Homo sapiens: one gene and its partners. The protein of the gene in region 2 purifies or fractionates together with the protein of the main gene of each other region. This does not show direct contact. Each region holds a gene or a part of one and is shown on either strand. Other genes may lie near its edges.

Region 1 (3,751 bases), about 74 Mb from region 2:
AGTCAATATTTGTAATATTAGCTTTCCCTGCTACACTATAAATTCCATGAGAACAGGGACAGTGAGTTTTGATCGCGACTATATCCCCCCAAGTCTAGAAGATCACTCTGTAAGTATTCGCTGATTGAACGGATTAAATAAAGAAAACAACGAAAAAGTATGAAAGGAGAGAAATAATTTAAATGGCAGTAACTTTGGGTTCTAAGGTTGTTCTCAACAAGAACTGGAAGACCTTAGGTAAGTTACTTAACATTTGATTGTCAATGCTTTCATCTGTAAAATAGAAAAATTAACAGATACTTCAGATTCAAATGTTTTTAATATATGTAAAGCATTTAACACAATACCTGAAAAAAGAACTCAATAAATGTTAATTCCTTTACTTTCTCTTACGTCTCATCTATCCATAAAACAGTGTCTTCCAAGAATATTTCAGTAAAAATACAACAGAACTCATTCTTACTTTCCTTTGAAAAATTAAATTTTCATCTCTTTGATCTTTAAAAAGGAGGGAAAAATAACTTGTGTACTGCTTTCAAAATATTACAAATGCAAAAGCTAGTTAAGACAAAAACAATGTCGAGAATGAGCCTTGCTGGTGGCATCCGCCTGTAGTTCCAGCTAGTAGGGAGGATGCCTTGAGGCCAGGAGTTCCAGATCAGCCCGGGAAACAAAGCAAGACTCCATCTCTTAAGAAAAAAAAAAACAAAACAGGAGGGGGGAAATCACTTCATCTACTAATAGAGATTTTTAAGCAACCGTTTATTTAAGAAAAAAGGGTGAAATTCAAGTTAATATTACTTGACAGTACGTTTCAGAAAAAAAAATACTCTGCAGAGCTGGGTGTGGTTGCCCAAGACTAGTCCCAGCTACTTGGGAAGCTGAGGCAAGAGGACAGTTTGAGCTCAGGAGTTGGAGTACAGCCTGGGCAATATAGCGAGACCCCATCTCTTTAAAATACAAACAAAAACTCGGCAATCGTTTGTTCTGAGTTGAAACCTTAAAAATCAAATATTTTGAACGCTTTCATTTAAAAGTGGAACACGACCCAATCCTAAAACATTACTTCATGACGACTTCCTTGACTCCAGTCATCCTTGTTTCCTCCTCCCGTTTTGAGCTTAATCCGATACCTCGCTGCTTCCCTCGCATCGCACACGCGGCGTGCAGACCAAGTTCTGTCATTGCTATAATTACCACACCCCCGATCAGCCGCTCCAGGCCCATGTTGTTATGACATCGGTAAACTGCAGCCGGCCGTCTCCACCCCCCGCTTCCCCCACCTCCCTCCGGGCCGCCGGCTCCGACCCGGTCTGTAACTTGTGAATTCCCAAGACGGTCCCTTTTTGCCAGGGTTAGAATTTTTACACGCCACCCCTGCTCCTTCCTGCCTCTGTCACAGCGCTCTGCGCGGCCCACCCCCGCCTCCCGCCCGCCGCCCGGCCGCGGCGCAGGCTCCGCGCTCGCCTCCTCTCCGCCCGCTGCCTCGGCGCCCCGCAGTCCCCGGCGCCGCTTACAGCCCCGCCGCCGCGCCACGCCGCCCCGCCCCGCCTAGCCTCGACCGGCGTTCCCGATGGCGATCACACCAGGGCTCCCCACCCCCACCCTCTCCTCCGCCGGCCTTGTGGCCGTTAGGACAGCCGGGCCCGTGACGCACGGACGCGGCGCGAGCGTCCGGCCCAGGAACCCCGGCTCTAGGCCCTGCCGGCACCCGCCCTCGCCCCAGGGCCTCTCCTGAGTCCCTCCGGGACTGCCCGGATCTGCCGGCGGGAGGGGGAGGGGCCGGGGCCGCAAGGCCCCAGCACTCACCAGGCTCAAGGCAACCGATCCCGGTGCCACCGCTGAAGTTAGCCCCTCGCTCGCCCGCCCGCCGTGCCACTCCCGCGCACAACCTCGAAGAGCTGGCCCGCGCCTCGGCGGTGCTCACCAGGCCTCGCTCTCCGCCGCCTCGCACCGAGCAGCGAGACTCAGCTCAGCCGGCGTTCGCAGTGCGCCTGCGTGCGGGGGCCGGCCCGAGCGCCTACGCGCGCCCCTCCGGCGCTTGTCGCAGAGGCTGCCGGGAGACGTAGTCTTGTAACGCTCTCTCGCCGGACATTCCTAATGGTTAGCGCCCAGCCTGTGAAGAGTCGGGGGTCGGGGAGGGGGTCTCGCTAAGAAGGAGGTTTGCAGACCATGGCAAAGGTTGGAGAAAGTTATATGTACAAACCTGTCTTTGCTAAGCTCTTCCAGGGCGGATCGATGCTCACCTCTGTATAGCTTCTAAGTACCTAATACGCGTTGATGGAATGAATGATGGAATGATTGAAGGCTGAGGGAGTATTACAAAATTAGTAGGTCAGCGCCTCGTGTCTAAAGGGCTCACATGCAGCATGAATGCAGGAAGCTTCTGGACATTCCTTTTTTAGTTATCTCCCATCCCCTTTGCTTGATAACGTATGCGTAGTATCAAAAATAATTAAGGGCCGGGCGCGGTGGCTCACACCTGTAATCCCAGCACCTTGGGAGGCCGAGGTGGGTGGATCACTTGAGGCTAGGAGTTTTGAGACTAGCCTGGGCAACATGGCGAAACCCCGTCTCTACTAAAAACACAAAAATTAGCAGGGGGTGGTGACGGGCGCCTGAAGTCCCAGCTACTCGGGAGGCTGAGGTGGGAGAATCACCTGAGCCCGGGGTTGACGGTGAGACTGCAGTGAGCCGAGATCGCGCCACTACACTCCAGCCTGGGCAACCGGAGTGAGACCCTGCCTCAAAAATAATAATAACAATAATAATAATAATAATAATGAAACTACATGAAACACATACTCGTTTTACTCTCAACTGCTCTCAAACGAAAACTTGGAGCAAATGATTGCTAATGTTAAATTTCATGGAATTCTTTGGGGGAGCAAATGGAGTAGTGGCTTCAAAAGAAGAAAAACTGAAGCCAGCCTAGCAGGGATCACGGAATAGTAGACAGATTTAAAACACATGCCAAGAAGCAAGGTGAAAGAGATGAGGTAGATTAATACATTTATAAATGTCCCAGGGAAGAGGAGAGGAGAGAGGACCACTCTACCTGAATCCTAGGTTATGCAATGTTCATTTGTCCTGGACTTCTCTCTGCTGCATCAGCATTCTCCCGCTGATGTTGTGTTTACTAAGATCAGAGTTGAGTTTGAGCAAGGGGGCTGGGGAAAGGGAAGGTGTGTTCAACAGGAGAGACTTAAGGGCAAGTTTGCCTGACCACAGCTAGACTGAAGACAGATCACCTTATTCCAATAAGGAACTAAGACTGATTATTCAGAGCCGGTCTTCAGTCTTTGGGAAAGCTAATTTATTTCCGGTTCACCCTTATTCCTAGCTAGTCCTTGATGGTCCCATCCAAAAGTCTGGGGTATTTACTAGGGCCTCTTCTCTTTGGTGGGCCTTCTAAGCCCCATGAGACAGCCATAAGCTCTTCTCCCTGTTTCAGCCACTGCTTTCAGAGTCAGCAATCACCTTAGCTTTGGAAAAATGATGGCAAATATCAGGCTAACCTCTGGTGGCTTCCTTTTTCTTCCAGACCTTGCACTCACAAATTCTCACTTCCTTGGTAGCTCTTCAGTACATTAACGTTTTTATATTTTGTTCAGTTGTTCTCTGTAGTGGAAAGGTTGATTGAAAACAACAGTAGGCCATTGCTGGAAGTTGAATTCCTATGTATGTTACTTTTACAAAAATGTTATCATACCATACATGGTGTTTTATAAGCTACTGTCTCTCTGACAAT
Region 2 (3,751 bases):
GGCTTGAGCCTCAGTAGGTAAAATTTGAGGAAAAAAATGAGAAATGGCTAAAAGAGGCATCTGCTGCAGGAACCTTCTGTGACTGTCAAACATTCCCTCTTCAAGCTCCCTTTTAAAACCCAGTCCATTCCCAACATCACTGAAAATGAAAAGAATAAACTTGCTGGTCCTCATGTCAAGGCAGTGTTTTCATTGTCTCTTGATATTTTATCCCATTTCCTATTGACAACATCTCCCCTACCCCTGAAATTATTTAGAGGTTCCCTCTATGACAAACCCTTGCTTTTTTTTAGCTTTAGGTATAACACTGACATCTTTTGAAAAACGTGTTAGTAAATACTCAAGTTCTGGCCTCATTTCCTGATGTATGAAGCATGGAAGCAGTGCTGTCCTGTGGAGATTGCTTTTGCACCAACTACACAGGAAGGTCCTTGACCTCTAAGCATGCCTTTAGAGGTTAGAATTCACAGAAAACAAATTCAATTGTCAAACACCTGTTCCTAATTTTGTGCAAAGCAATACAACATAGCACAACTCCATTTGTTGTTTTTCGTTGTGCTTTGTAGAGACGGGGTCTTGCTATGTTGCCCAGTCTAGTCTCAAACTCCTGGCCTCAAGCTATCCTTCCTCCTCAGCCTCCCAAAGTGTTGGGATTACACGTGTGAGCCACCATGCCTGGCCCCACCTCCATTTATTAGGCTATCTCATGCAAACTTAAAATTAAAAAAATAATCCCAGGCCCCAATGTAGATCATGAACCTACTTAAGACTCATTATGGTAAAAACAAATTCTTACATTTTTCTGTCTTTCTAAAAGTGTAGTGGTTATGGCTAAAGACTAATCAACATTACAGATCCAATCTGTTGTCAAAGAACACAATTTCTGACCTGGTAACAAAATTGTTCTGATAATCTGACACATGGCCAAGATTCTCAGACAAGAATTAAAGGCATTCTTTTGGATTCTGTCCTTTAATAACTTTCAGAGGCTTCCAGCTCAGTAAAGACACTGATCAAATCTTGGTAAAAATGGGCTCGTGTGCAGACTTTAGGTGATGTTCTTCAGCAAATTCAACAGGCCAAAGGAGTGTTTGTCACTGACAGAGCTCTCACCACTCACTGGTTCTGTGCCAGTTTTCCATAGCCTCCTCTCCCAGCATCGTAGTCCTGCCGATACTCATCCCGAACCTTTAATGGAAAGAATCCAGAGTTACAGTATGGAAAAGAATGGTGTAACAAATATGCCTCCCACAAACATGTTAGACAAACAGTGAAACCTGTTCAGATGCCACAATGTGAACATTTCAAGCAGGACATATGCACTTCAGCTCACTTCAGTGCGTTTTGCTTTCATTTTAGATGTTCCTGCAGGTGGAAGATACCTAGCCCTAGCAGAAGTTCAAGAATGGTTGCTTGTTAGAAACGTACAGAACATACCATTTCACGGTTTAAAAAAAAAATTCACCCAAACCGTTGGGTGGTTTTCAGATCCACTTCAAGCCAAGGTTATAGACACAAAGTTATTTACAAAAGAGTAAATACAAATTGCCAAAACACCTGTCATTGTGACTGGAATCCCAGGCAATGGCTGAGCCCAGAGACCCTTCTTGCATACCTGGCCCCCAGATCGCCCACGGCCGTATTGCCTGCCCTCCTTAAAGCCTGCGTCCCAGTCTGTGCGAATGATTCGGTCATCCAGACGCGTCCCATTTATGTACCGCATGGCGTTTTCCGCATCTGCGCGTGAGTAATATCTTAAGTATTAAGGAACACTAGCATTTTTCCAAACATTTCTGGAAATAGGGGAACAACATGTAAATGAAGCTGAGTTGTTAAAAAGTACAAGAGCTAATCCAACCAGATGGAGTTCAAAGACAGTAATTCAGCTTGCCCAGGCCTGTTTGCGATTGGTTTGGAAGCACATAGAGTCAAATATGACACGTATCCATGGCTACACTGATCATATTTCTTGGACATTCCTGTTGATAATTTTTGGTCCCATCATCTCTGTATTTTGGTTTGCAAGTTTAGATCACTGTACACTTCTTATCCAAGAAACCAGTGCTGTATATTCAAGTTAGGTTCTGTACATTCCAAGGCACCCTAATCAAGAGAAGGTCACCGTGCACGTGGAATTGTGCTGCACTTCACTAAAGGAAAGACTCAAGCTGTCACCAAGGTAGCAGTTCCCAAACCTACTTCATCAGAGACCTCCCTTTAATTAAAGGGGAAGACATTTAATCTCAGACAAATAAAAATAAGACAACAGTGTTCTGAATAAACCATCTGGAGAAACTAGTATCTTTGATGTTAGCAAGCCAAAATAAAATCTCTTTTCATTCTAGCATTTGGGAAACCTGTGTATCCCCGAGGCAAGCCTGCAATCTGGGAGAGAAGCCCTGCCTGGGTCCAGTGAGTCAGCATTCTTTTCCTTAATTATGAGCAGAAATCCAGGGATCACCAGACACTTAAGGAAAAATTTCAACCGAAACAAACATAATTCAGGGCACAGGAAAAAATTCAAAAGATATATTAAATTGGGCCTGCAAAATTTCTCAGAATATTAAATTGAATGACCAAAACATACAGTAAAAAGAACATAGGATAAATCCAAGAGGTCCAATACTTAAAAGAGTCTGAGTAAGGGAATTAAATGATCAAAGTAAATAGTTTTGGTTTGTACCTATACAGTCAGGTTATATACATCTATATAATGAAATACTATACAGCTATTTACTTAAAAGTTTTTTTCTTTAAAGATGGGGTCTTAACCCGTCACCCCCGCTGGAACACAGTCACAACTCAGTGCAGCCTTGAAATCTTGGGCTCAACTGATCCTCCTGCCTCAGCTTCCTGAGCAGCTGGCACTACAAACACCAGCCACCATGCCCAGCTGTACAGCTATTTTAAAAAAAGACCTACATATGCTGAAATGGAACAATAAAAAATAAAAAAATGATTTTAAAAACAGCACATGAAATACACTACCGCACACCCACAGGGTTACTTCTTGAAAGACGCCCAAGAAACTGGTAACTGACTGCCTCTGGCAAAGGGCATTAGGGGTTTAGAACAGTACGAGATTTTTATATTTTCACTACATTCTTTGGAATTTTTTTTTTTTTACGTGAAGGGCAAACATTCTTGAAAAACTTTTTGTTAAAGAACCATAAAGCATGGATTTCAGAAGAGAATATAAATAGTATCAGCTTTACAGTATAAGGGCAGAGACACACTGGGTGGAAAGTAGGAGGGAGATGAAGGAAAACGTAGGGACGAGTGCAGGGACGCTTATGAGCTACCACTCTCAGCTCTACCCTGGTTCAGCAGCTACATTAGATCCATGGGAAGGATACTCCACAAAACAGAATCCACATGCTGTTTTCTTCATTTTATCCAGACCCATAATGATTTTCTTTATGTCACCACTTTTGCTGAAGAGTTCATAGATTTGTTCTTCAGTTGTGTAAAAAGAAAGATTTCCAACATATAACGTACAGCTTTTCTTCAGTAATTTTTCTTGTTCTTCATTGTCACCCTAGAATTTCAAATAGAGACAAAAGTTAAGCAACTTCAGAGCCTTGCTTAAATAGTATTTCTAAGTACGGTAGAGACATTCATTAATTCTGGTTTGGAAATCAACTTCTCTCATCCCAGCCTACCAGAAATCCCTTGCCCAAAAAGGGGGATGTCGACCTTCTGTGAAGCACTTATGCGAAGTCCAGACTCTTAGTAGAGACAGGGCTCAAAA
Region 3 (3,751 bases), on a different chromosome or scaffold from region 2:
AACAGGAAAACAAACTTAGTCAAGTTCTGGCTTCTAAGTTCTACATATGGTGACTGTTAGCAATATAGCAATTAAAAGAATAATTATAACATCATCATTTAGGTGGCATCTGAAATAAATGATCTATAATAAAATTTTATTGGTCAGGCATGGTGGCTCACACCTGTAATCCCAGGACTTTGGGAGGCCCAGGCAGGAGGATTGCTTAAGGCCAGGAGTTTGAGACTAGACTGGGCAATATAAGACCCTGTCTCTACAAAATATTTTAAAAATAAGCTGAGAGTGATGGCATGTGCCCTACAGTCCCAGCTACTAAGGAGGCTGAGGCAAGAGGGTCACTTGAGCCCTGGAGTTTGAGGCTACAGTGAGCTACGATAGTGCCATTGGACTCCTGCCTGAGTGATAGCAGGAGACCTACCTCTTCAAAACAAAACAAAACTGCCAGGTACAGTGGCTCACACCTGTAATCCCAGCACTTTGAGAGGCCGAGGCATGAACATCATTTGAGCCCCAGAGTTCAAGACCAGTCTGAGCAACATAATGTGAGACCTGGGTGACAGAGTGAAACCGTCTCTTTTTAAAAAGAATTTTTTGGCCAGGCGCAGTGGCTCACTCCTGTAATTCCAGCACTTTGGGAGGCCGAGGAGGGTGGATCACCTGAAGTCAGGAGTTTGGGACAAGCCCAGACAACATGGTGAAACCCTGTCTCTACTAAAAATACAAAAATTAGCCGGGTGTGGTGGTATGCCTGTAATCCCAGCTACTCGAGAGGCTGAGGTGAGAGAACTGCTTGAAGCTGGGAGGCGGAGGATGCAGTGAGCCGAGATCGTCCACTGCACTCAGCCTAGGGGACAGAGTGAGACTCTGTCTCAAAAAAACAAACAAACAAAAGAATGTCCTTGTAAGTCAACATTTCCCTATTATTAGATATTCCAAGTGTTTCTATTTTTTGTTATTATAATGCAAAGTTTCTGGTAGTTTGACATAAAAACTTTCTAGTATTAAAATCCTTTCCCTAAATGAGCTGGAATAACTGAATTACAAAGACATAATACAGTGAAAATAACTCCAACATGGTTTTGGAGTCAGAGTGGTCTGTGTGATCTCAGGCATATAATTTTGATTATTCTCCATTTGTAACATTCACGGTGATACAATGTGGTGAAGATTAAGTTATATAATATTAATCTTTGGTCCAGTGGGAGGAAATCAATAAATGTTACAGTATTTCTTTTCTCCTGCCTGAGAATATTATTTGTCCAAGGTTTAGTTACTTAGAAGGTATCTTTTAAGTACATACTTTTTGTCAAGAATTACTTTGGGTGAGAGGAGAGAACATTAGAGTATAATCTTTGCTACCACTCAACAGTTGTGTTCCTAAGGAAACTTACATTGTTACAAATCATGTTACTGAAACAGTTGTTACAATGAAATGAAAAAAGTAGTTACTAGAGATTTTAGATTTACAGTAACATTTCCTATAGGAATGTCAATATAGCAGACTCTATTAAAATGACTGTTAAGAGAACAGCCAGAAAACTTAAGGAAAAAGAACACTGAGCAGATGCAAAATGCAATTACCTGGACCAGCTCAAGGTAAGTTGCTTTATCTGTCATCATTAGCATTACAGTCAGTATGGCTAAAAGACACATTCCTATTACCTTTATCACCATTGTTATCATAAGGAAAATGTGCGGCTACTCAAATACAACAGCTGTGATAGATGTGCACCACCTCTTTCCTATGCAAGAGTTTAGTTCTCAATCTTTAGTCTATGAATAAATGCTAAGTGCAAATCATGTTCTCGGATTAACAAATTAAAAGAAAACAAATTTTAAGTTTTGAAAAATCCATACTGTAGAAGAATGTCCGTAAAAGATATTCCCAGTAACACAAACATGATTTAAAATACTAAAGAGTCTACACCTTCTAGTTTATAATACTGGAGACAGAAGAATGAATGAAAGCCACAAGGAGACAATCACCAAAATATAATAAGGTAACCTAATATTCTGTAAGATAACCACCTGTAACTTTTTTTTTTTTTTTTTAAAGACAGAGTCTTGTTCTGTCACCCAGGCTGGAGTACAGTGGTGTGATCTCGGCTTACTGCGACGTCCACCTCCCAGGTTCAAGCGATTCTCCTACGTCAGCCTCCCGAGTAGCAGGGATTACAGGCGCCCGCCACCATGCCTGGTTAATTTTTGTATTGAGTAGGGTCGGGGTTTCACCATGCTGGCCAGGCTGCTCTTGAACTCCTGAACTCAACTGATCTGCCCACCTCGGCCTCCCAAAATGCTGGAATTACAGACAGGAGCCACCACGCCTGACCTAACCATCTTTAACTCTTCAAAAGGTCTAAATCATGAAGGAAAATGTGGGGTTAAAAAGAATAAAGGAGGGCCAGGCAAGGTGGCTAACACCTGTAATTCCAGCACTTTCGGAGGCCAAGGTGGGAGGACTGCTTGAGCCCAGGAGTTGGAGACCAGCCTGGCCAACATGGAGAAACTCCGTCTCTACAAAAAATACAAAAATTAGCTGGCCATAGTGGTGCATGTCTGTTGTCCCAGCTACTTGGGAGGCTGAGGGTCATCTAAGACCAGGGAGGTCAAGAATGCAGTGAGCTGTGATGATGCACTCCAGCTGGGGCAACAGAGTAAGACTTTGTCTCCGGCCGGGCGTGGTGGCTCATGCCTGAATCCCAGCACTTTGGGAGGCCAAGGCAGGCAGATCACGAGGTCAGGAGATCGAGACCATCCTGGTTAACATGGTGAAACCCCATCTCTACTAAAATACAAAAAATTAGCTGGGCGTGGTGGCGCAAGCCTGTAATCCCAGCTACTCAGGAGGCTGAGGCAGGGGACTTGCTTGAACCCGGGAGGCAGAGGTTGCCGAGATCATGACACTGCACTCCAGCCTGGCGACAGAGCAAGACTCCATCTCAAAAAAAAAAAAAACAGTTTTTAAAAAAAGACTTTGTTTCCAAAAATTAAAAAAAAAAATTTAATTAAAAATATATAATACAGGAGGAGATACAACAAATGGAATATGGAAACCTAGACTGTATTCTGCTTAGGGGGAAAGTATATAAAATATATTCTTGGGACAAATTAGGAAATTGGAATAAGGTCTAGATATTGAATACTATGAAATTGTTTTTATTTCTCTTAGGAGTGATAATGGGTCTTGTGGTTATGTAGGGTATTGTCATTACTGGGAGATACTTTTTTTTTGTATTTTTTTTTTGGTGGGGGATGGCACCAAGCTGAAGTGTTAACTGTACACTCACTCCAGACTCATTGCCTGCCCTTACGCTTGTTCAAATAATTAGAACTAAGCATCTGATGCTTGTTATTTATTTCCACATGGAACAGGAAAAGACTGTATAGGCCAGGCGTGGTGGCTCATGCCTATAATCCCAACACTCTGGGAGGCTGAGGTGGGTGGATCACTAGAGCCCAGAGTTCCAGACCAGCCTGGGCAACATCTCTACAAAAAATACAAAAATTAGCTGGGTGTAATGGCATATGCCTGTACTCCCAGTTACTCTGGAGGCTGAGGTGGGAGGACTACTTGAGCCCAGGAGGCAGAGGCTGCAGTGAACAGAAATTGCGCCACTGCACTCCAGCCTGGGCAATAGAGCCAGGTCCTTAGACCCTGTCTCAAGGGGAAAAAAGAAAGAAAGAAATAGAGAAACAAATAAAAAGTGTATAGGTAAAGAAAGAATGGTTCATGCCTGTAATTGCAGCA

Evidence for each region.
Region 1: the proteins of NCBP2 (region 2) and KPNA1 purify together in Homo sapiens (affinity purification with mass spectrometry; 3 studies listed by BioGRID and IntAct, with this or other methods). This does not show direct contact.
Region 3: the proteins of NCBP2 (region 2) and PHAX purify together in Homo sapiens (affinity purification with mass spectrometry; 5 studies listed by BioGRID and IntAct, with this or other methods). This does not show direct contact.

Annotation. Positions count from the first base shown.
Region 1 is NC_000003.12:122,512,948-122,516,698, forward strand, and holds the start of KPNA1 (importin subunit alpha-5), read right to left. Parts: upstream 1,993-3,751; 5' UTR 1,810-1,992; intron 1-1,809. UniProt on the Homo sapiens protein: Functions in nuclear protein import as an adapter protein for nuclear receptor KPNB1. Binds specifically and directly to substrates containing either a simple or bipartite NLS motif.
Region 2 is NC_000003.12:196,935,895-196,939,645, forward strand, and holds part of NCBP2 (nuclear cap-binding protein subunit 2), read right to left. Parts: intron 3,539-3,751; coding exon 3,357-3,538; intron 1,755-3,356; coding exon 1,616-1,754; intron 1,189-1,615; coding exon 1,117-1,188; 3' UTR 1-1,116. UniProt on the Homo sapiens protein: Component of the cap-binding complex (CBC), which binds co-transcriptionally to the 5' cap of pre-mRNAs and is involved in various processes such as pre-mRNA splicing, translation regulation, nonsense-mediated mRNA decay, RNA-mediated gene silencing (RNAi) by microRNAs (miRNAs) and mRNA export.
Region 3 is NC_000005.10:126,617,878-126,621,628, reverse strand, and holds part of PHAX (phosphorylated adapter RNA export protein), read right to left. Parts: intron 1-3,751. UniProt on the Homo sapiens protein: A phosphoprotein adapter involved in the XPO1-mediated U snRNA export from the nucleus.